6 separate regions of the Homo sapiens genome follow, and regions 1, 2, 4, 5 and 6 are each reported to be linked to region 3. Evidence: microRNA targets listed by miRTarBase, many of them from high-throughput screens and not tested one by one. Region 3 holds a microRNA gene; each other region holds the end of a gene's coding sequence.
Evidence for each region. The annotated mature microRNA hsa-miR-4478 reads GAGGCUGAGCUGAGGAG and lies in region 3 at 1,842-1,858, opposite strand. An mRNA with a match to its seed (bases 2 to 7 or 8) in the 3' UTR can be bound and repressed. Matches are read on the target gene's strand: a 7mer-m8 pairs with bases 2 to 8, a 7mer-A1 pairs with bases 2 to 7 and ends in A, and an 8mer does both.

Region 1: the mRNA of LHPP is a reported target of hsa-miR-4478. Seed matches in the 3' UTR shown: 7mer-m8 at 1,271-1,277.
Region 2: miRTarBase lists ZNF33A as a target of hsa-miR-4478. The part of its 3' UTR that is shown has no 7-base or 8-base seed match.
Region 4: miRTarBase lists MRPL49 as a target of hsa-miR-4478. Seed matches in the 3' UTR shown: 7mer-m8 at 2,423-2,429.
Region 5: miRTarBase lists ZNF701 as a target of hsa-miR-4478. Seed matches in the 3' UTR shown: 7mer-m8 at 2,057-2,063, 7mer-m8 at 324-330 and 7mer-m8 at 189-195.
Region 6: the mRNA of CENPN is a reported target of hsa-miR-4478. Seed matches in the 3' UTR shown: 7mer-m8 at 1,442-1,448, 7mer-m8 at 1,618-1,624, 7mer-A1 at 2,479-2,485 and 7mer-A1 at 2,945-2,951.

Annotation. Positions count from the first base shown.
Region 1 is chr10:124,612,588-124,616,459 of GRCh38, forward strand. LHPP (phospholysine phosphohistidine inorganic pyrophosphate phosphatase) reads left to right here. Exons shown (of 7, transcript NM_022126.4): 7 at 677-1,554. The coding sequence ends at 773. Among named protein-coding and RNA genes, the nearest start is that of FAM53B-AS1, 90 kb to the right of the region's middle. RefSeq lists an enhancer at 345-855.
Region 2 is chr10:38,055,622-38,059,493 of GRCh38, reverse strand. It overlaps ZNF33A (zinc finger protein 33A), which reads right to left. Exons shown (of 5, transcript NM_006954.2): 5 at 1-3,872. The coding sequence ends at 2,934. Among named protein-coding and RNA genes, the nearest start is that of ZNF37A, 37 kb to the left of the region's middle.
Region 3 is chr9:122,118,306-122,122,177 of GRCh38, forward strand. It overlaps MIR4478 (microRNA 4478), which reads right to left and starts at 1,862; the gene lies at 1,777-1,862.
Region 4 is chr11:65,125,679-65,128,678 of GRCh38, reverse strand. It overlaps MRPL49 (mitochondrial ribosomal protein L49), which reads right to left. Exons shown (of 4, transcript NM_004927.4): 4 at 1,308-2,953. The coding sequence ends at 2,807. It overlaps SYVN1 (synoviolin 1), which reads left to right. Exons shown (of 16, transcript NM_172230.3): 15 at 1-116; 16 at 191-1,400. The coding sequence ends at 297. Among named protein-coding and RNA genes, the nearest start is that of MIR6751, 2.8 kb to the left of the region's middle.
Region 5 is chr19:52,582,615-52,586,486 of GRCh38, reverse strand. It overlaps ZNF701 (zinc finger protein 701), which reads right to left. Exons shown (of 4, transcript NM_018260.3): 4 at 1-3,872. The coding sequence ends at 3,030. Among named protein-coding and RNA genes, the nearest start is that of ZNF701, 14 kb to the right of the region's middle.
Region 6 is chr16:81,028,074-81,031,073 of GRCh38, forward strand. It overlaps CENPN (centromere protein N), which reads left to right. Exons shown (of 11, transcript NM_001100624.3): 10 at 98-224; 11 at 496-3,000. The coding sequence ends at 578. The region is part of intron 2 of CENPN-AS1 (CENPN antisense RNA 1); the gene reads right to left. Among named protein-coding and RNA genes, the nearest start is that of ATMIN, 6.3 kb to the right of the region's middle.

The sequences.
Region 1 (3,872 bases), not on the chromosome of region 3:
ATGGCTTCATTCCTGTGTCCTCAGCATCCAGTGAGACCTCAGGAGATGCCTGGGGAATGGCTGAAGGCTTTGGAGAGGTTGCTGCCCCCAGAATCCCAGCCAGAGGGCAGTTTATCCAGGAGCCCGGTGCCTCCTCTGTTGGGTGGGCGTGGCCTCAGAGGGCACCAACCAGAAGACACATGCTGTCACTGACATGCGGGCCCCCAGCGTTAGGGCAGGCAGGAGCTCCGAGTCTCTACCCCAGCTGTCCCCACAGTGCACATGGACTAGGCTCCTCCCACGGGGCACTAGGCCAGGCCAGGGGTGTGGGGTGAGCCCCTGGGGAGCCCAGAGCAGGGTACACTCATGTCCCCACCATCCAAGGTGAGATGTCTGTGCTGGAGGCCCAGAGGGAGCTGGGCCGGCTGTCACTCCACCACAAGGCTGAGCAGGCTCCCCAGTGGGAGACAGGTTTGGGGAGGTGTCCAGGTTGAGGGCACAGTCAGGAGGGGCCATGTGTGCCTGAGTAGGGCAGGGGGAGGAGGGGGATGGCCAGTGGCCACGGGCCAGGCTGCCTGGCAGGACCTGGAGGTTTCCTCAAGCTAAGGCCAGGCCCATGTTAGATGCTGGGAGGGTGGGTGTGGCTGCAGAGGGGTCAGCGTGGGGGCACTGACTAACCTCCGGCCATCCTCTCCAGGCCCAGTGACGAGCACCATCCGGAAGTGAAGGCTGATGGGTACGTGGACAACCTCGCAGAGGCAGTGGACCTGCTGCTGCAGCACGCCGACAAGTGATGGCCTCCTGGGAGAGCCCCGCCTCCTCCACCCCTGCCTCTCCTCCACCCCTGCCTCCCCTCCACCCCTGCCTCTCCTCCACCCGCCCAGGAGAGCCCCACCTCCTCCACCCCTGCCTCTCCTCCACCCCTGCCTCCCCTCCACCTGCCCCAGTGCCCAGACCAACCAAGGCCCTGACAGCCCTGCCTTCTGCCCTCTGCCCTGCATGGGCAGGCATTTGTTCCCTACCTGGGTGGCCTGCTCCCCTGCCTGGGCCCTGACTTCAGCTCCCTGTAGTGAAGTCCAGGAGGGTGGGACAGGCCTGTCAGGCCTCTGGGAATCTCCCAAATCCCAGAACTCACCACTCACCATGGGCCTTTAAATGCAGTAAACTCCACCTAACCAGATTCAGGGGCACTATGCCCACTGCCTCCTCTTCAGACTCTTTGCATTTCAGTGAAGAGCCTGGAAGAAACCCAGGGGCCTCCTATGCACAGATCTTGCAGCCCAGAACCAAGTCAGCCTCCCTGCGACTGCCCAGGCACACTGCCCACCACCCCACCCCCGAAACAATGCCAGCCCGCTGCTTTTTCTATCCTCCCAGTCACCTTTGCAGACAAAGACCAGGGGCAGCTCCCGAGGGCACTGTGAAGGCTCCCATGCCACACAGTGAGAACTGTAGCCTCTGCGTCCAAGGCACACAGGGTACTTTCTGGACCCACTGCTGGACAGACTTGAAGGTGTCATGCCCGGTGTGTGCAGGAGGAAACTAACAGTTCAGTAAACTCTGCCTTGACCAGCAGCCTTTGACTCAGGCTTTGACTGCTAGGAAGAACCGTATGGGGGAGGCCACCAGCAGGGTCTGGGCCACTGTCTCTAGTCCTGCCTTATGCTTGAGCCACTGAATATCAGAGGTGCGAGGGACAAGGGCCCTGAAACACCTCACCTGCTCCAGCCCCTTCACTTAGCAGATGGGGAAACTGAGGCCCAGAGGGGCCAGTGAGCTGCTGTTGGCCCTATCTGGAACGAGGCAGTCCAGGGCAAACTTTGGCACTGCCTTCCCTAACGGAACAGCCTGTGGCCTGGGGGTGGTGAGCTTTGCTTTCCCGACCAAGGGCGCGGCGGCCTTCCCACAGGGGCCCTGGGAACAAATCACTCATAACTGAAGTTTCAGGTTTCAGAATCAGTCAGCTGAACAGATAACTTGATTGCTCCATTTCTCCCCAAATCAGTTCAGAAGCTACTGATAACCCTTGAGAGACTGCTTCTTTATTTTATTTTATTATTATTATTTTTGAAATGGAGTTTTGCTTTCGTTGCCCAGGCTGGAGGGCACTGGCGTGATCTCAGCTCACTGCAACCTCCGCCTCCTGGGTTCAAGCTATTCTCCCGCCTCAGCCTCCCGAGTAGCTGGGATTATAGGTGCCCGCCACCACGCCTGGCTAATTTTTTGTATTTTTAGTAGAGACAGGGTTTCACCATGTTGGTCAGGCTGGTCTCGAACTCCCAACCTCAGGTGATCCGCCCACCTCGGCCTTCCAAAGTGCTGGTATTACAGGCATGAGCCACTGCGCCCGGCCTGGAGAGCGCTTCTTATGAGAGAAGCCATGGGTCTCCGGAGCAGGATTTCCACCACATGAAGGTGGACGATAAGAAAGTGTGGGACCCACGCCGGGGAGGGGCAAGTACAGCCCCCGCAAGGCCGCCCATTAAATCAGGATTGGGGGAAACGGTGACAGTCTTTTCAGCAAGATGAGAGGCCACCAGCCGGGCCAGTGTCACTGGATTTGAGGGAGGGCCATTTGGCCCCTTAGTTGGAAAATATGCAGATGGCTGGCTCCTTGATGGAGTCCCCTGATGGCAGCTCCTTAGGAGACAATACAGGACGTTCAGGCGGCGGCTGCAGTTCAGTGGCAGCCTGGAGGGGCTGTGCGTGATGCCGGGCTGTGCGTGATGCCGGGCTGTGGGTGATGCCATGCTGTGCGTGATGCCGGGTTTGTGGGTGATGCCGAGTTTGTGGGTGATGCCGGGCTGCGGGTGATGCCGGGCTGTGCGTGATGCCGGGTTTGTGGGTGATGCCGGGCTGTGCGTGATGCCGGGTTTGTGGGTGATGCCGGGCTGCGGGTGATGCCGGGCTGTGCGTGATGCCGGGCTGCGGGTGATGCCGGGCTGCGGGTGATGCCGGGGCTGTGTGTGATGCCGGGTTTGTGTGTGATGCCGGGCTGTGCGTGATGCCGGGCTGGGGGTGATGCCGGGCTGTGCGTGATGCCGGGCTGTGCGTGATGCCAGGCTGTGCGTGATGCCGGTTTGTTTGTAGGTCTTTAGTTTTTTCTTTCTTTTGTGTTTAATGGGGAAGCTTCCCGCCAAGACAGCAACCCCTCTGGGGGAAGGAGTTCAAGCTGAGACCTCTTTTTTTTTTTTTTTGAGACGGAGTCTCGCTCTGTCGCCCAGGCTGGGGTGCAGTGGCCAATCTCGGCTCACTGCAAACTCCGCCTCCCGGGTTCACACCATTTCCCTGCCTCAGCCTCCCGAGTGGCTGGGACTACAGGTACCTGCCACCACGCCCAGCTAATTTTTTGTATTTTTTAGTAGAGACAGGGTTTCACCGTGCTAGCCAAGATGGTCTCGATCTCCTGACCTTGTGATCCGCCTGCCTCGGCCTCCCAAAGTGCTGAGATTACAGGCGTGAGCCACTGCGCCCAGCCGAGACCTCCTCTTTCAAGTTGCTACCCAGGAGTGGGGTGCCCAGAGGGACAGCCCCTGGAGGTGCAGCCCCCTGCTTTGTTGGGGCGGGAGCATGCCACCCTCTGAGCCGCGGTGGGCTCAGTGAAGTGGGTGTTGTCATCCTTCCCACTGCACGGGTCTAGAGTCTGGGGTGCGGTGAGCTCGCGGCTTGCTGAGGGCCAACAGTTAGTGAGGGGTGGAGCTGCGACTTGCAGGAAGGTCCAGCCCCGCCTCCCAGGCCCTTTCTAGCCCCTTCTGTTGCCGTGCTGCTTCCCACCCTTGCCTGGAATCCTCCTGTGGGGGACGCATGTGGTGGCCCCTGTGGCTGACTTTCCGGCTGAGCCAGGGCACCAGTGTCCTCACTCTAGAGATGAGCTCTTCTGAGGGGTGAGGTCC
Region 2 (3,872 bases), not on the chromosome of region 3:
TAATTGCTTATTAATGTCAGCAGGGTTTTTGTTATTTAGAATTCTCTACAAAGACAATCATGTTACTTGTGAACAAAGTTGTATTTCATCCTTTCAAATCTATGTGCATTTTATTTCTTTTTTTTTTAACACTGCATTATATAGCACTTCCAGTACAATGCTGAAAAGCAGTGGTGTGGTGTTCCTTGCCATGTTCCTGATCTTAGTAGGAAAGTGTCTAGTTGGAAACATCAAGGATAATGTTAGCTGTAGGGTTTTTTGTAGTATGTTCTTTACCAACTTGAGTAAGTTCTCCTGTATTCCTTCTGTGTTGAGAGGTTTTAACATGAATGGATATTGGATTTTGTCAAATGCTTTTTCTGTACCTATTGATATGATCGTATTTCATCTTTGAGCTGCTAATGCATGCAATGGATTACACTGAATATCAAATGTTGAACAAGCCTTGCATTCCTGATTTGCTAATATTTTGAGGATTTCTGCATCTGTGTTCAATGGAAATATTGATCTGTAGTTTTCCTTTCTTGTAATATCTTTGCCTGGTTTTGCTATTAGGGTAATACTGGCCTCACAAAATGAGTTGGGAAGTGTTATCTCTGCTTTTATTTTCTGAAAGAGATGGTAGAGACTTGGTATCATTTCTACCTTAAGTATCTCAAAAACACATCAGTGAACCCAGCTGGTCCTGGCACTTTGTTTTGGAAAGTTTCATTATTATTTTTTGAGATGCAGTCTCATTCTGTCACCCAGGCTGCAGTACAGTGGCACAATCTCAGCTCACTGCAACATCCACCTCCCAGGTTCAAGTGATTCTTCTGCCTCAGCCTCCTGAGTAGCTTCGACTACACACGCATGCCACCATGCCCAGCTAATTTTTTGTATTTTTAGTAGATAGGGGGTTTCACCATGTTGACCAGGCTGGTCTCGAACTCCTGACCTTGTGATCCACCCGCCTCAGCCTCCCAAAGTGAAGTGCTGGGATTACAGGCATGAACCACTGTACCTGGCCTTGGAAGGTTATTAATTACTGCTTTGGTTTATTTAATAGATACATATGCCTATTGAGGTCTATCTTGTGTGAGCTTTGAGAGAATGCGTCTTGCAAGGAATTGGTCCATTTTAGCTAAGTTATCAAATTTATGGACAGAGTTGTCCATGTTTCTTTCTAATCCTTTTGGTGACCATAGGATTAGCTGTGATGGCCTCTTTCATTTTTGGTATTAGCAATATTTGTCTTCTGTTTGTTCTTAAGCTAGCTAGAGGTTTATCAATTTTACTGACCTTTTCAAGGAACCAGTTTTGGGTTTTATCGATTTTCTCTTTTCAATTTCAATGATTTTTACTCTAATGTTTTTTCAGGTTACTTTGGATTTAATTTGCTCTTCTTTTTCTAGTTTCCTAAAGTGGAAGCTTAGATTACTTGTGTAATCTAGGATCACTAGACTGTATAATCTTAGATTATTTGTATGATCTGATCATGTAATATAGTGTACAATCTTCACACTATCAATAAAAGCCCCACACCAGCTTGATTCTGGTTCTGCTCCAGCCTCAACCCTCCTCTTCATATTCTCAAAAGTCTGAGGGCCCAGATCCCTGTCTGGGGACAATGAGCCTTGAAATGACAGTCCAACAGCCCTGGGCAGCCCTGGGCTGTATGTGTGGGCCTTTCCAGGGCCCTGTCTTGGAGAGCAGCTGCTTAAAGAAAATTTGGACTACCACTTATGCTGAAGGCTGGAATGTTCACATATGTACCCTAGGCACTTCATGGCATGGCATGAGCCACAGGTAGGAAGAGAAAGGGAGTAACATGGAGGCGAGCCTAGATCTTCACATGTACAGGATAGATTTTTTTTAGATAATTTGTTATTTTGATTTATACCTTTTAAATGGATAAACATTAGCTCTGTGGGTCTCCTTTTAAATTGTTTCAGGACATCACAAACATCTGGGATGGGCCTGATAATGTAACCACTACTAAACTAGGATACCTACTTCCTATTCACAATTACGTTAAATTCCATTATGCATATGAAACACACGATTTATATCACATACCACTTATACATATATAAGTCTTTTGAACTTCAGGGATAATTCGCAGATGTGCTTAATGCTATTGCCCTGATTATTCAATTTATCTGTGCTTTAAAAAAACTTCATAGTCAAGTGGATGCAAGGGATAGGGTTGCAGAAAGCGTGTGGTTATTAATACAAAAAGGGAACTACTTGAGGCTAAATCCTTTGTAATCCTGATACAGTACAGATCTCAGATTCCTTTTCAGTTCTGTAAACTAATCGTGTTGATGGTTACTCAAATGTAAAAGTCGTAAAAGTTTGATATAACCACACACACACACATACACGTACACACACACACAGAGTGCATGCAAACCATAGTAAAATCTGACTAAGTCTCTATCTACCAGCAAGGTAACATCGATTTCTTGGACTTGACCATATACTATGATTATACATTATCCTTAGAGGAAGTTTGGTGAAGTGTACATGGGAATTCTCTCTACTCATTAAACTTCTTGTGAGGTTATTTTAATTATTACCTTTGTTTAAGTTCTTAAAGCTTTACATTCCACAATATACATCTATAAATTATTGTTAGGTGCCCTAAAAACTATTATGGCATCAAACTCAAAACATAACTTGTCGTATTTTATTTCTAAGCAAAATTTTCACTTTAGATTTCTTAAATTGACAATTTTCTCCTCAGTGTAAATTCTAACATAACCTTATTTGCATTTTTGCCAAAAACTTTCACAAATTCAAAAAAAATCTGTAAGGTGTTATGCCCGTATTAACCATCTGATATTACATAGAATATCACTTCCTAACAAAAGCTGTCCTATAATTGTTGTAGTCTATGGGTTTATCCCCTACTATTACTTTGGAGTAACATAAGGTGAGTTTGTGGATAGTTACTGAACATTCAGGATGTCATCAGGGCTTTCTCCACAGTGTGAATACTCTGAGGCATTATGGAGGCTGACTTGTGGCTGGAAATTTCTAATATCCATTTCATTCATAAGGTTTTCTCCTATATGTCTTCTCTGATGTACAATGAGATTTGACTTTTGAGAGAAAGTTTTCCTGCATGTGTTACATTCATAGGGCTTTTCCCCTGTATGTGATCTCTGATGTTGAGCAAGTTCCGATTTACGGTAAAAGATTTTTCCACATTCATTACATTGACAAGATTTCTCTCCTGTGTGAGCCCTGTGATGTACTGTGAGTGATGATTTGTGCCTGAAGAATTTCCCACATTCATTGCATTCATAGGGTTTCTCCCCCGTGTGCTTTCTCTCATGGAAAATAAGTCCTGATTTTACACAGAAAGATTTTCCACATTCATTACATTTATAGGGCTTTTCTTGTGTATGGGTTCTCTGATGTACAATTAGAGCTGACTTATGGCAGAAAGCTTTTCCACACTCATTACATTTATAGGGTTTCTCCCCTATGTGAATTCTCTGATGCTGAGTGAGTTGTGACTTCTGGTAGAAGGCTTTTCCACATTCATTACATTCATAGGGTTTCTCCCCTGTATGTGTTCTATTATGTTTAGTTAGGTATGATTTATTGTAAAAGATTTTTCCACATTCATGACATTCGTAGGGTTTCTCCCCTGTGTGTGTTCTATAATGTTGAGAGAGGGTTGACTTATGGCTAAAGAATTTCCCACATTCGGGACATGCAAAGGGTTTCTGCCCTGTGTGTGTTCTCTGATGTACTGTGAGGTCTGACTTCAAGCAGAAGGTTTTCCCACATTCATAACATTCATAAGGTTTCCACCCTGTATGAATTATCTGATGCCTGGTGAGTAATGACTTGTGGTAGAAAGTTTTCCCACATGCATT
Region 3 (3,872 bases):
GGCTTAGGCCCTGCAGCCTGTACGGTGTCAAAAAACAATTGTCATAAGTTGTCGACACTTGGAAACATTTAAACTTATGAGGTTTCACATTAAAATCTGTATTACTGCCTTCCTTTACAAATCTGGAAGAAGGAATGCATCTGTATAGGTGGGTAAGAGCAGGGGCTCTGGAGTCAGACTACCTGGGTTCCAATCCTAACTCTGCCACTAGCTTGCTGTGTGTCCTTGGCTGAGTTACTTAACCTCTCTGTGCTCTGCTTCCTTCGTCTGCATAACGGGGATAATAACAGCACTTTCACCAAGATTGTCATGGAGATTAAATAAGAAAGTGCCTATACAGCACTTCTTTAGAACAGCACCAGGCACAAAAGAAGCATGCAAAATGTTAGCTGGTGTTATTTGTAACTTTTTTTTTTTTTTTGAGACAGGGTCTTTCTCTGTCACCCAGACTGGAGTGCAGTGGCACAATCATGGCTCACTGCAGCCTTGACCTCCTGAGCTCAAGTGATCCTCCTGCCTCAGCCTCCCAAGTAGCTGGAACTACAGGCTTGAGCCACCGTGCCTGGCCGTTTGTATCATTATTTACAGTGTTTAGTATTAGGCAGTGCTGCCCCTGGATTCTGTCCCAGGCAGAGCTGAGTAATAGCTGCCCCTTTAGATGAAGTGTGACCTCTTCCATTGTCCACAGCCCACAACCCCAGGGACCAAGGCTGAGGTCCTAAAAAAGCCAACACTGTGTAGGGGCCTGACTCCTGGCTGCTATGTGACTTTGGACAGTCACTCCCTCTGTCTGGGCCAGTGTCCTCACTTATAAACCAGAGGCACAGGGCCCTGAAAACATTATGCTAAGTGAAAGAAGCCAGACACGGAAGGCCACATAATGTCTAATTCCATTCCTACCAAATGCCCAGAATACGAAAATCCATGGAGACGAACAGTGAATTAGTGGTTGCAGAGGCTGACGGAATGGGGAGTGACATCTCATGGCCACAGGGTTTCTTGTGGGGTCACAAAAATGTTCTGGAGCGCCATAGTGGAACCGGTTGCACAACCTTATGAACACAGTCATGCGTTACTTAATGATGGGGATACGACCGGGCACAGTGGCTCATGCCTGTAATCCCAGCACTTTGGAAGGCCGAGGTGGGCGGATCACCTGAGGTCAGTAGTTCGAGATGAGCCTGGCCAACATAGCGAAACCCCATCTCTACTAAAAATACAAAAATTAGCTGGGTGTGGTGGCACGTGATTGTAATCCCAGCTGCTCAGGAAGCTGAGGCAGAAGAATTGTTTGAACCCGGGAGGCGGAGGTTGCAGTGAGCCGAGATCGTGCCACTGCACTCCAGCCTGGACGACAGAGTGAGACTCCATCTCAAAAAAAAAAAAAAAAAAAAGATGGGGATACATTCTGAGAAATGTGTCACCGGGCAATTTTGGTGGGCAAACTTACATGAACCTAGATGGTGTAGCCTACTGCACAACTAGGCCACATGGCATAGCCTATTGCTCCTACACTATAAACCTGTACAGCATGGTACTGTGCTGAATACTGTCAGCAATTGTAATGCAATGCTAAGTATGTGTGTATCTAAATATATCTGGATGGTTTCCCTGCAGGTAACAGCTGGCTCTGATGTCCTAAGGAGACCCCAGCGCCATGACAAACCCAGGGATCTCTGATTGCTCCCAGCCTGAGTCGCTTCATATCCTACATGGGAGGCTGAATCCACAATCCCTCCTGCAGACGTACCCTCTCCTCTCCCTTGTCCCTGCAGAGGCCAGGGCTGCAGGGGATGAGGCTCGCCCCTAGTACTGCATGACCCTGTCTACAGGTTTGGAGGCTCCTCAGCTCAGCCTCGGCCCCTGGGCTCTTGTCTTGCTAAGCCCAGAGACCCAGCTCCCACTGGGCTTGGTGGCTGCTTGAAGTGGATCATGCCTTGCACCTCCCCCTCCTCTCCAGAATCTTCTATGTGTGCCGAGACTCCCAGAACAGGAGACATTTGGCTACATCACCCAAGATGGTGCCCACTTTCCATTGCCATGGGTCTAAGAAAAGGTGAAGTTCCCTCCCCCAGCCCTTCCCTGCCTGCTGAGGGATAGGACATGTGTCCCCATTTGCAGTGGATGCAGGGAGGGCTGGAGAAATGCTCTGTGCTCTGAGTAAGGCATGTTCCCCTGTAAGTGTGCCCATGACAGCTTGTGTATGCATATGTGCATGTATGGATATGCATGTTTGTTGGCAGGGATCTGTGCACATTTGTAGGTCTGCCTTTCTACCCGTCTTGTGTTCTGGACTGTGCACATATCTGCCTTGACAGACTTATCAATGTTCACACACTGGCTACACCTGTACCTTGTCTATATGTGTGGCTGCGTGCGTGAGTCTGCTGGAGCTCAGCACTTGTGTGGCTGAGCTGTTTACACCTGTCTGAATATGAGGGGTGTGTTCACGTGTCCCCTGAACGCACACTAGTGCATGTGTCCCTTCTGTGTGTGTCAAGGCAGGCCGCACGGCCATGAGGACCATAGCCCAGGCCTTGGAAGTTTTCCACGAGCTTAGACTCCAGCACCCACTGCACATGGCAAATGGCACCAGTGACCTGCCGTGGAAGGCACAGATGCCAGAGGGCACCACTACTCCAGCAGGAGCAACACCAACAAGGCCAGCACCAGCCCCACCCATGGCCTCCAGAGATCCTGGAGCCTGGAGGGCCCAGACGAGCTGGCAGCTCCAGGCTCCAGGCTCCTCAAGGTCCCACAGACAGGCCAAAATCCAGACAGCGGGAAGGGACAGCACAAGCCGGAGCCTGGGGACCAGAGGCAGTTTGGGGGTGCTCCATGGGGCCACACCCCAAGCCTGCTCTACATATTCTTCTAGGGCTCCAGAAGTGGGGAAAACCACAGGTGGGGAAGGCTGCCCCACAGGTGTACAGGTACAGGTGTGAGGCTGACATAGGTGGGTGAAGGATCAGAATCAAGAAGAGGAGATACTTCCTGCCTGATGAGTCTCTAGCTGTCCCCTCCAGGGCGCAAAGCCCCAGCACCTCCTTCTCTCCTGTCTTTGGGGCACCCAGCCATGGCCCCAGCCCCTTGGGCTCCAGCAGCAGCAGCAGATACAGGAGGCTGAGGCTCAAGTGAGAGTGGCTAGAGGGCAAGTGAGCTGAGCAGGTGGAGGCCAGACCACCCTTTCCCATCCCAGCTGGCCCGGGCCACAGGTGCCACTCGATGAGGCCTCAGCTAAGCACCGAGACAGTTGCCCTCAGACAGCCCACGCCAGCCAGCTCCCTGCACCAACCGGAAGCTCCTGCGGCACCTGGCACCACCCGAGGCCCGCCTGGGAAAGAGAGGGCCTGAGAGCCAACTCAGCCTGGCACCCGGGAGGCGATGGTCTGGTGAGACTTGGGAAGCTGAAGGTCCTGCCCCAGGTGGAACTCAGAAAGATAAAGAAATGGCAGCTCAGAGATAGGAGGGGACTTGCATAGGCTGCCTGTCCAGGCAGCGGCCAAGCTCTTGTGACTGTAGAGTCCTTTATTACCCTTTCCCACTCCCAAGCCAAAATGCTGGTACCAGGACCCAACTGAGTCAGATCCATCTTCAGTTTCCCCTAGACACCCACCCAGTGGGCTCCAAGAGGCCAAATCCCGGGGACTGGACCCCTAGGACAAGTCGGTGACCCAGGGTTGCCTGCCCTTCTTTGCCCCAATACCAGGACTGCCCTGGGCCTATAACATGCTTTCCTGAATTCTGGATAGGTCTCCCTACCATAGCTCAGAGAGGGTTGCCCACTTGCCCAAGATCACACAGCCGGGGAGCTGGCACCGGACAACTGGCCCGTGGGTGTTCTCCTGTGTCACTGTCCTCGGCTGCCCTGG
Region 4 (3,000 bases), not on the chromosome of region 3:
GGAGACTGCCACTACAGTTGTTGCTGCTGCCTCCTCCACCAGCATCCCTAGCTCAGAGGCCACGACCCCAACCCCAGGAGCCTCCCCACCAGCCCCTGAAATGGAAAGGCCTCCAGGTAGGTGTGATTGGCCTCCAGCCGGGGGAGCAGGGAACTTCTCTAGGTTCCACTTCCAGTCTCTCTGTCCCCAGCTCCTGAGTCAGTGGGCACAGAGGAGATGCCTGAGGATGGAGAGCCCGATGCAGCAGAGCTCCGCCGGCGCCGCCTGCAGAAGCTGGAGTCTCCTGTTGCCCACTGACACTGCCCCAGCCCAGCCCCAGCCTCTGCTCTTTTGAGCAGCCCTCGCTGGAACATGTCCTGCCACCAAGTGCCAGCTCCCTCTCTGTCTGCACCAGGGAGTAGTACCCCCAGCTCTGAGAAAGAGGCGGCATCCCCTAGGCCAAGTGGAAAGAGGCTGGGGTTCCCATTTGACTCCAGTCCCAGGCAGCCATGGGGATCTCGGGTCAGTTCCAGCCTTCCTCTCCAACTCTTCAGCCCTGTGTTCTGCTGGGGCCATGAAGGCAGAAGGTTTAGCCTCTGAGAAGCCCTCTTCTTCCCCCACCCCTTTCCAGGAGAAGGGGCTGCCCCTCCAAGCCCTACTTGTATGTGCGGAGTCACACTGCAGTGCCGAACAGTATTAGCTCCCGTTCCCAAGTGTGGACTCCAGAGGGGCTGGAGGCAAGCTATGAACTTGCTCGCTGGCCCACCCCTAAGACTGGTACCCATTTCCTTTTCTTACCCTGATCTCCCCAGAAGCCTCTTGTGGTGGTGGCTGTGCCCCCTATGCCCTGTGGCATTTCTGCGTCTTACTGGCAACCACACAACTCAGGGAAAGGAATGCCTGGGAGTGGGGGTGCAGGCGGGCAGCACTGAGGGACCCTGCCCCGCCCCTCCCCCCAGGCCCCTTTCCTCTGCAGCTTCTCAAGTGAGACTGACCTGTCTCACCCAGCAGCCACTGCCCAGCCGCACTCCAGGCAAGGGCCAGTGCGCCTGCTCCTGACCACTGCAATCCCAGCGCCCAAGGAAGGCCACTTCTCAACTGGCAGAACTTCTGAAGTTTAGAATTGGAATTACTTCCTTACTAGTGTCTTTTGGCTTAAATTTTGTCTTTTGAAGTTGAATGCTTAATCCCGGGAAAGAGGAACAGGAGTGCCAGACTCCTGGTCTTTCCAGTTTAGAAAAGGCTCTGTGCCAAGGAGGGACCACAGGAGCTGGGACCTGCCTGCCCCTGTCTTTTCCCCTTGGTTTTGTGTTACAAGAGTTGTTGGAGACAGTTTCAGATGATTATTTAATTTGTAAATATTGTACAAATTTTAATAGCTTAAATTGTATATACAGCCAAATAAAAACTTGCATTAACAATTGGTGGGGTTTGTGTCACAGAATCGATCAAATCAGTGTCGGGCTCCTTGCTGTGGCTGTACACTTGAAAATGGAATGGAATCTCCAGGAGTGAGGGTTTCCATGGAAGCCAGCACTATCCTTGGGGACACCACTGACCATTAACAGATTAGGAAGATGTGCCCATTTTACACACAGAGAAGCAGCCCAGAGTTCAGTGCCCTGCTTCAGGGCAGAGACCAAGTTGGGGAGTCAGGAACTGAAAGCTGTCTTAGCCAGTTTGGGGGCAGGGTGGGGTCTCAGGCCTTTGGCCCCTGTGACTCCAAGTATAAGGCATATATGAAGGCTAGTGAGCTGGGGTTGGGATGGGATGGCAGGGTGAAAGGTCAGCATATTCCTGCCTGCAAACCCCTCCCCAGCCTTGATTGCAGGTCAGAAGGCTGCAGGGGGATGTCCCTATGCTGGCTGTGAGTTCCCAGCCACTCCCTTGTGGTCAGGCCAGCAAGTCTGGTCTGCAATGGAACAGTGACCAAGAACGTGCCTCCTACCTCTCTATCAGAGCCCGGGGCTAACGTGGGCACTCTGTGCCCCAGTGCCAGCACTGTACTTTGAACAGAAGATCTCCAAGACCCATGCCCGAGTCATCTGTGTTCTCCATCACCTGCACCAAACAAGATCTGGCCTAGAGCAAAGGCTTGGGGGTATTTGCAACAGTGAGCTTCGGAGGGCCAAGGAAACAAAGTGCCCAGTGGCTCTGCCCTGTGCTACCTTCCCCTAAACTGGGGTTGGGCTACTGCTTCCACCAAATAACAACTAGAATTTGAATTGCTGAGCCCAAGGAAAGAAAAACAAAACAGGCCAAGGTGGACCAGGCACATGGCTCATGCCTATAATCCCAACGCTTTGGGAGGCCAAGGTGGGCGGATCACTTCGAGTCAGGAGTTTGAGACCAGCCTGGCCAACATGGTGAAACCCCATCTCTACTAAAAATACAAAAATTAGCAGGCTGTGGTGGTGGGCGCCTGTAATCCCAGCTACTCAAGAGGCTGAGGCAGGAGAATCCCTTGATCCCAGAGGTGGAAGTTGCAGTGAGCCAAGATCATGCCACTGCACTCCACCCTGGGCAACAGAGTGAGACTCCGTCTCAAAAAACAAAAAAGAACAGGCCAAGATAGGAGGGAGAGAAAGCTGCTGACGCCCCCCATTAGCCTGGTGATCCCTATTTGGTCTCCCACATTAGGCACTCTCCCCCAGCATGTACATAGAGTTGTTTTCTCCTTTATGCAAGCAAGGCCTGACCCCAAAGTCCTTTAGCCCTAGTTTCTGTATCCCCTGTCTCAGGGGCTCCAACACCCACCTCCCTCCTCCTGAGGCCCCCTAGACTTGATCCACAGGGCATGCTGACAAGCAGGCTGCTCGGCTGGGCCTCAGAAGCCTTTCTCCAAGAGCCAGGCTTTAAGCTCCTGGTCAAAGTAGCCCTTGATCCGTAGGGTACCTGTCACCTCATTGACCTGGGTGACAGGTGTCTTCCCCAGCAGCGGGCTCAGAAAATCTTCCACGTCTTTCTGCAGGGCCTGGGGAAAGATGACAAATCAGGTCAGGCCAAGAGTCCCTTCCCTTA
Region 5 (3,872 bases), not on the chromosome of region 3:
GCCGAGGAGTTTGAGACAAACCTGGCAAAATGGTGAAACCCGTCTCCTGGATAGAGGAGAATCGGCCTCACAAAGTGCTGGGATGACAGGCATGAGCCACCGCGTTCAGTCTACATATACATTTTTTTTTTTAAATTAAGAAATAAGGCGGGCATGGTGGCTCAAGCCTGTAATCCCAGCACTTTGGGAGGCTGATGCTCTTGGATCGCTTTAGCCCTGCAGTTGGAGCCCAACCTAGACAACAAGGCAAAACCCGGTCTCTACCAAGAACACAAAAATTGGCGCGGTGTGGTGGCGCGCGGCTGTGGTCCCAGCTACTCTGCAGGCTGAGGTGGGAGGATCCCTTGAGCCCAGGAGGTTGAAGCTGCAGTGAGCTGTGATCCGGTCACCGCTCTTCGGCCTGCGCAGCAGAGTAAGACCCCATCTCCATCAAAAAAACAAAAACAAAAACAAAAAAAACCACATGGGTCCTGGGTCTAGGGAGGCAGGGAATCTAAAACCAATTAACGCGAACTTTCCAAAACTAGACTAAAAGGAAAAACCCCATCTTCCCACCCAAAGTAACAAAGGATCAAAGGCTACTCTCCCTAACACCCTCCCCCTTCCACCAGGTCGCAGGTGGAAAGAGAAAGAGCCCAGGAGTGGCCAAGGCCAAGCACCGGCCACCCCTTCATCTGCATAGGGCACCCATCTGCTCTGGCCTCAGGCCAATTTACCTCAGTTATTTCCTTGGCCAAGGGCCAAATTCTTCATCCAGATAAGGGGTAGCCCATAGGGACCTCAAAAAAAAATAACCTCCAAAAACTTTGTAAATGGGGCCCTGGAGACGCTCGCTTGGGCCCACCCCCACCCTGTGGGGTGCTTTCTTGGTTGAGTAAATTTCTGCTTTCGCCGCTTCATTCTTTTGTTACTTTGTGGGGTTTTTTTTTTTTTCTTCAATTCTATGTTTAATATCCATCTACCTGGAAACTTCACATTCCAGGCCTGCCTTCCGGGAACAACAGGGCGAGGGTGGAAAAAGAGGGTTGCCTCCAGGAGAAGCACGTTTTCCTGGGGTTGGAACTGGGGAGAAGCAGGGCCGGCACGAGGAGGGAGGTGGTGGGCGATGGCGCCTTCGGACAGGGGTGGGGTCTGCAGGATCCCAGGACCAGGCAGAGGACGCGGCCTTCCCGGGAGTGGGGCTGCAGCGCTGCCCTCCAGGCGCCGATGAGGAGCCCAGGGCGAGAGTCCAACTCGCTGGTGAGGACCTGAAACAGCGCGAGGCGGGAGGACGGGTCGGGAAGGGTTTTGAGAAGGAAAGTTTCGCTACAGGAGGTGTCTGCACGGCCCTACTGCAGAAAAGACCGGGACGGGACCAGCCTCAGGGCGACTTTAAACTCAAAAGGAAAAGACTCACGGACTCCCACCCGGACGTCTCAATTTGCTCTGAGTTGAGAAAGAGGGGCCGGAATTTCCAGGTCTGTGGAGACACCCACGTCCCCGGTATAGCAGTACCAGAGAACTGGGAAGCGCAAACTCAACGGGGCAACCTTCAGTCCATGCCATCAGCTTCCGGGTCTGTGCCAATCAGCACAGTACAGAAGCCAGACCCGCGGGGAGACCCCCGAGGAGGTGGGCGGGGCCTGGGTCAGGCCAGACGGGAGGCGAAGAGGTGGGCGGGGCCTGAGTCAACCAAAATACTACTGGAACTAATCAACACATTCAGTGGATTTGCACAATGCAATAGCAGCACCAAAAATTAATTGAATTTCCATAAACAATAAAAAATTTAAACGAAAATTAAAAAACACTTCCATTTGCTAGAGATCTTAAAGTAAGAAATACTTAGGAATAAACATAAAAAAACTGAGAATTTCACACCTTGAAATCTACAAACATTAACCAAAATGATTAAAAACATATATATACAACCCACATTGATGGTTTGGAAAAATCAATATTGTTATTATATAAGCCAATGTGATTCAGATTCAACACAATACCTATAAAAACCCCTATTGGTTTTTGTTAAAGAAACAAAAAGCAGGCTGGGAAAAGTGACTCACGTCTGTTGGCCAGGCTGATCTCAAACTCATGACCTCAAGTGATCTATCCACCTTGGGCTCCTAAAGTGCTGGATTTACAGGCGTGAGCCACACGCCTGGCCCAATCCTCTTAACATAAACACTTTAATGTCAATTAATGCTTCAACTGAATGTTTTAAGTCAACTCAAACTCAAGTCAATTCTGAATTGACTCTACTGTCAATCCTTGATGGTTTGCTGTGCTCACCGCATTTGTAACTATTACCTCAAAAATGAACGTTATGATATTCTGCAAGGAGTAACCTCGGACTGAAGACCTTGCCACACATAGGACGTTTGTAAGATTTCTGTCCAGTATGGATCCTCTGATATCTAATGTGGTGTGAACGTGAAGTAAAGGCTTTGCTCACAATCATCACACTTGTGAGGTTTCTCTCCTGTATGAATTCTCCCGTTTTGCAAAAGATGAAGCTTGACTGAAGACCTTGCCACAATCATCACATTTGTAAGATTTCTCTCCTGTATAAGATCGCCAATGAACTGCAAGTTATGAATGATGTCTGAAAAACTTGCCACATTTATTACACTTGTAAGACCTCCTTCATTATGGATTCTCCAATGTTTTGCAATGGCTGTAATATTACTGAAGACTTTGTGACAATCATTACATTAGTCAAGTTTCCCTATACCATGGATTGCTTGATGGTGAGTAAGTGTTGACTGACCACCAAAGGCTCTGCCACACTCATTACACTTGTACAGTTCCTTTCCAGTGTGAATTCCAGTATGTTGGGCCAGGTGTGAATCACACCCGAAATCCTTGTCACAAACCTTACATTTGTATGGTTTCTCTCCAGTATGAACTCTCCTATGTATTTCAAGGAGTGATTTGAAATTGAAAACTTTTGTCACATTCTTCACATTTGTAAGGTTTCTCTCCAGTATAAAGTCTATGATGACATGCAAGGTTTGACTGTTGCCTAAAAACCTTGCAAATTTACACTTCTAAGATTTCTTTCCAGTATGAAGTCTATGATGACGTTCAAGGTTTGATTTTCGATTAAAAACCTTGCCACATTCATTACACTTGTAAGGTTTCTCTCCAGTATGAAGTCTACGATGACATGCAAGGTTTGATTTGTGATTAAAAACCTTGCCACATTCATTACACTTGTAACGTTTCTCTCCAGTATGAATGACCTTATGCATTACAAGAGATGAATTTTGAACAAAGGTCTTGCCACACTCATTACACTTGTAAGGTTTCTCTCCAGTGTGAATTACAGTATGTTGTGCCAGGTGTGAATCACGTCTGAAAGCCTTGTCACAAACCTTACATTTGTATGGTTTCTCTCCAGTGTGAATTCTCCTATGTCTTTCAAGGTGTGATTTGCGACTGAAAACTTTGTCACATTCTTCACATTTGTAAGGTTTCTCTCCAGTATGAACTCTATGATGACGTGCAAGGTTTGATTGTTGATTAAAAACCTTGCCACATTCATTACACTTGTAAGGTTTCTCTCCAGTATGAATTGCCTTGTGAACTAACAGGGCTGAATTGTGACTGAATGTCTTGCCACACTCATTACACGTGTAAGGATTCTCACCAGTGTGACATCTATGGCATGCAAGGTATCGCTTCTGATGAAAGTCCTTGCCGCATACATCACATTTATACTGTTTGTCTCCTAAATGGATTATCTGATGTTTTTTTAAGAGTGAGCTACCATTAAAGGCTTTGCCACTCTCATTACGTTGGAAAGATTTTTCTCTTGTGTGTACTTCCCGTTTTTGTGTGAGTAATGAAGACTGGAGGAAATTATTCCTATACTTATTAGAAATACGAGT
Region 6 (3,000 bases), not on the chromosome of region 3:
CAAGAATTAATGAAACGTATCATTATGATTTCATTATATTTTACCATTCGTATTTATACAATATGTTTAATAGTCATTTATAAATGTTTGTTGACAGCTTGAAACGAAATTCAAAAGTGGTTTAAATGGGAGCATCTTGGCTGAGAGGGAAGAACCCCTCCGATGCCTAATAAAGTTCTCTAGCCCACATCTTCTGGAAGCATTGAAATCCTTAGCACCAGCGGGTGAGTGGTCAGCTTACTCTATAAGCTAGAAAAATTAACAACATGCCTCCATTCCATCCTTATAATCTGCTAATTACTTCTGAGCTCACCCATCACCCTAGTCTGCTAGCCCATCCTGCTCTCTCTTGCATCTTCTGCTTCTGTACTTAATAGGGAGGAGGGGCATCTATGATCCACCCTCTAATCTCAGCCATTTTTAAACTGACTCAAATCCATCCTCCTGTGATGACTTTTAATTTTCTTTTTCCCTTTTTTTTTTTTTTAATTTCAGGTATTGCAGATGCTCCACTTTCTCCACTGCTCACTTGCATACCCAACAAGAGAATGAATTATTTTAAAATTAGAGATAAATAAGACGTGCGTGGTTTCTTAAGCACAGCTCCTCCTTCTTGATATTGCACATGCACTTCAGTTCATGGCTAGCTGTATAGCTTCCGTCTGTAAACTTGTATTTTCAAGAATCCTTGGTATTGAATTTTTAGAAATGCTCACATAATTGTTGGGACTGATTCATTCCTCCACGATATGCCTCCTCTCTCTGATATCCTGCTAACTGTAGCCGTTGTGGCATTTGAGATGACAGGACATATATATATATGGCCCCACACTTGACCTTGAGTGCCTGAATGCTCTGAAATCAAGCATATGGCACAGCGCTCAAGACTTTTGGGTTTGTGTCCTTTTTTCTATGGCTGTCTCTTCTCAATTCTGGAGAGGTCTGGTTCCAGTGGCTGGTTTCCAGGGATTGATTCTTAAGCTCTGGATCACAGAGAGAAGCAACAAGGAACTATACTCAACTCAAAACTTTTTAGGAGAATCATGAAATTGGTCTATTCAAAGGATGGAGTTGAGTCCATTCTGTTATTGTTGCAAGAGGTTGCATATTTGGTGAGTCAGTTATATAAAATAGTGTTCTTATTGTAAATATGATACTTCTCATAATCTATTTTATCATGTGTATAACATTCAAACTGACAAATATATTGACTTATGAATAAAGGTGTCAAAAAACTGGCACATCAGTTAATTTTGATCAAAGTACTTCAGTGATCATCACTAAATACCCTATCTTTTTAAAAATTTTTTCCTTTCTAATTTTTTATTTCTTTATTTATTTATTGAGACAGGGTCTCACTGTGTCACCCAAGCTGGAGTGCAGTGGCATGATCATGGCTCACTGCAGCCTGGACCTCCCAGGCTCAAGTGATCCTTCCACCTCAGCCTCCCGAATAGCTGGGATTACAGACGCGCTCCATCCTGCCCAGCTAATTTTTTTTTTGTTTGTTTTTTGTTTTTTGAGACAAGTCTCCTTCTATCGCCCAGGCTGGAGTGCAATGGCACAATCTTGGCTCCCTGCAACCTCTGCCTCCTGGGTTGAAGAGATTCTCCTGCCTCAGCCTCTGAGTAGCTGGGACTACAGGCCTGCACCACCATGCCCAGCTAATTTTTGTATTTTTAGTAGAGACAGGGTTTCTCCATGTTGCCCAGGCTGATCTCAAACTCCTGGGCTCAAGCAATCTGCCCATTTTAGCCTCCTAAAATGCTGGGATTATAGGAGTGTATTAGTCTATTCTCATGCTGCTAATAAAGATACCTAAGACTGGGTAATTCACAAAGGAAAGAGGCTTAACTGACGCACATTTCCACGTGGCCAGGGAGGCCTCACAATCATGGTGGAAGGCAAATGAGAAGCAAAGTCATGTCTTACATGGCGGCAGGCAAGAGAGCTTGTGCAGGGAAACTCCCATTTATAAAACCACCAGAGCTCATGAAACTTATTCACTACCATGAGAATAGTATGGGGGAAATCGTTCCCATGACTCAAGTATCTCCACCTGGCCCTGCCCTTGTCACATGGGGGTTATTACAATTCAAGGTGACACTTGTGTGGAGACACAGCCAAACCATATCACAGGCATGAGCTACCACGCCCGCCAGCATGTCTTTTTTAAACATTTTAAAATCTATTCTTTATCTTGTTTCAGAGAGGATTTGGAGTTACAGAAACACATTAGACTGGGCATGGTGGCTCACACTTGTAATCCCAGCACTTCAGGAGGTTTCTCCTAGTGTACTCTCACACTTCTGATACCAGATATGTGGGGGAGGGGGTTTCCCCCACACATTAAGCAAGTGTGAAACATGATATAGAAAAATGACTTCACTCTGGGCCGGGTGTAGTGGCTCACGCCTGTAATCCTAGCACTTTGGGAAGCCGAGGTGGGCAGATCACCCGAGGTCAGGAGTTCGAGACCAGCCTAGCCAACATGGCAAAACCTTGTCTCTACTAAAAATAGAAAAATTAGTTGGGGGTAGTGGCAGCCGCCTGTAATCCCAGCTATTCGAGAGGCTGAGGCAGGAGAACTGGTTGAACCGGGGAGGCAGAGGTTGCAGTGAGCCAAGATCATGCCACTGCACTCTAGCCTGGGTGACAGAGTGAAACTCTGCCTCAAAAAATAAAATAAAGGCCAGGCATGGTGGCTCACGCCTATAATCCCAGCACTTTCAGAGGCCAAGGCAGGTGGGTCACAAGGTCAAGAGTTTGAGACTAGCCTTAGCAACATGGTGAAGGTGAACCCCGACTCTACTAAAAATACAAAAATTAGCTGGGCCTGGTGGTGTGCACCTGTAATCCCAGCTACTTAGGAGGCTGAGGCAGGAGAATCGCTTGAACCCGGGAGACATAGGTTGCAGTGAGCCGAGACTGCACCACTGCACTCCAGCCTAGGTGACAGAGTGAGACTCCATCTTAAAAAATAAATAAATAAAATAAAAT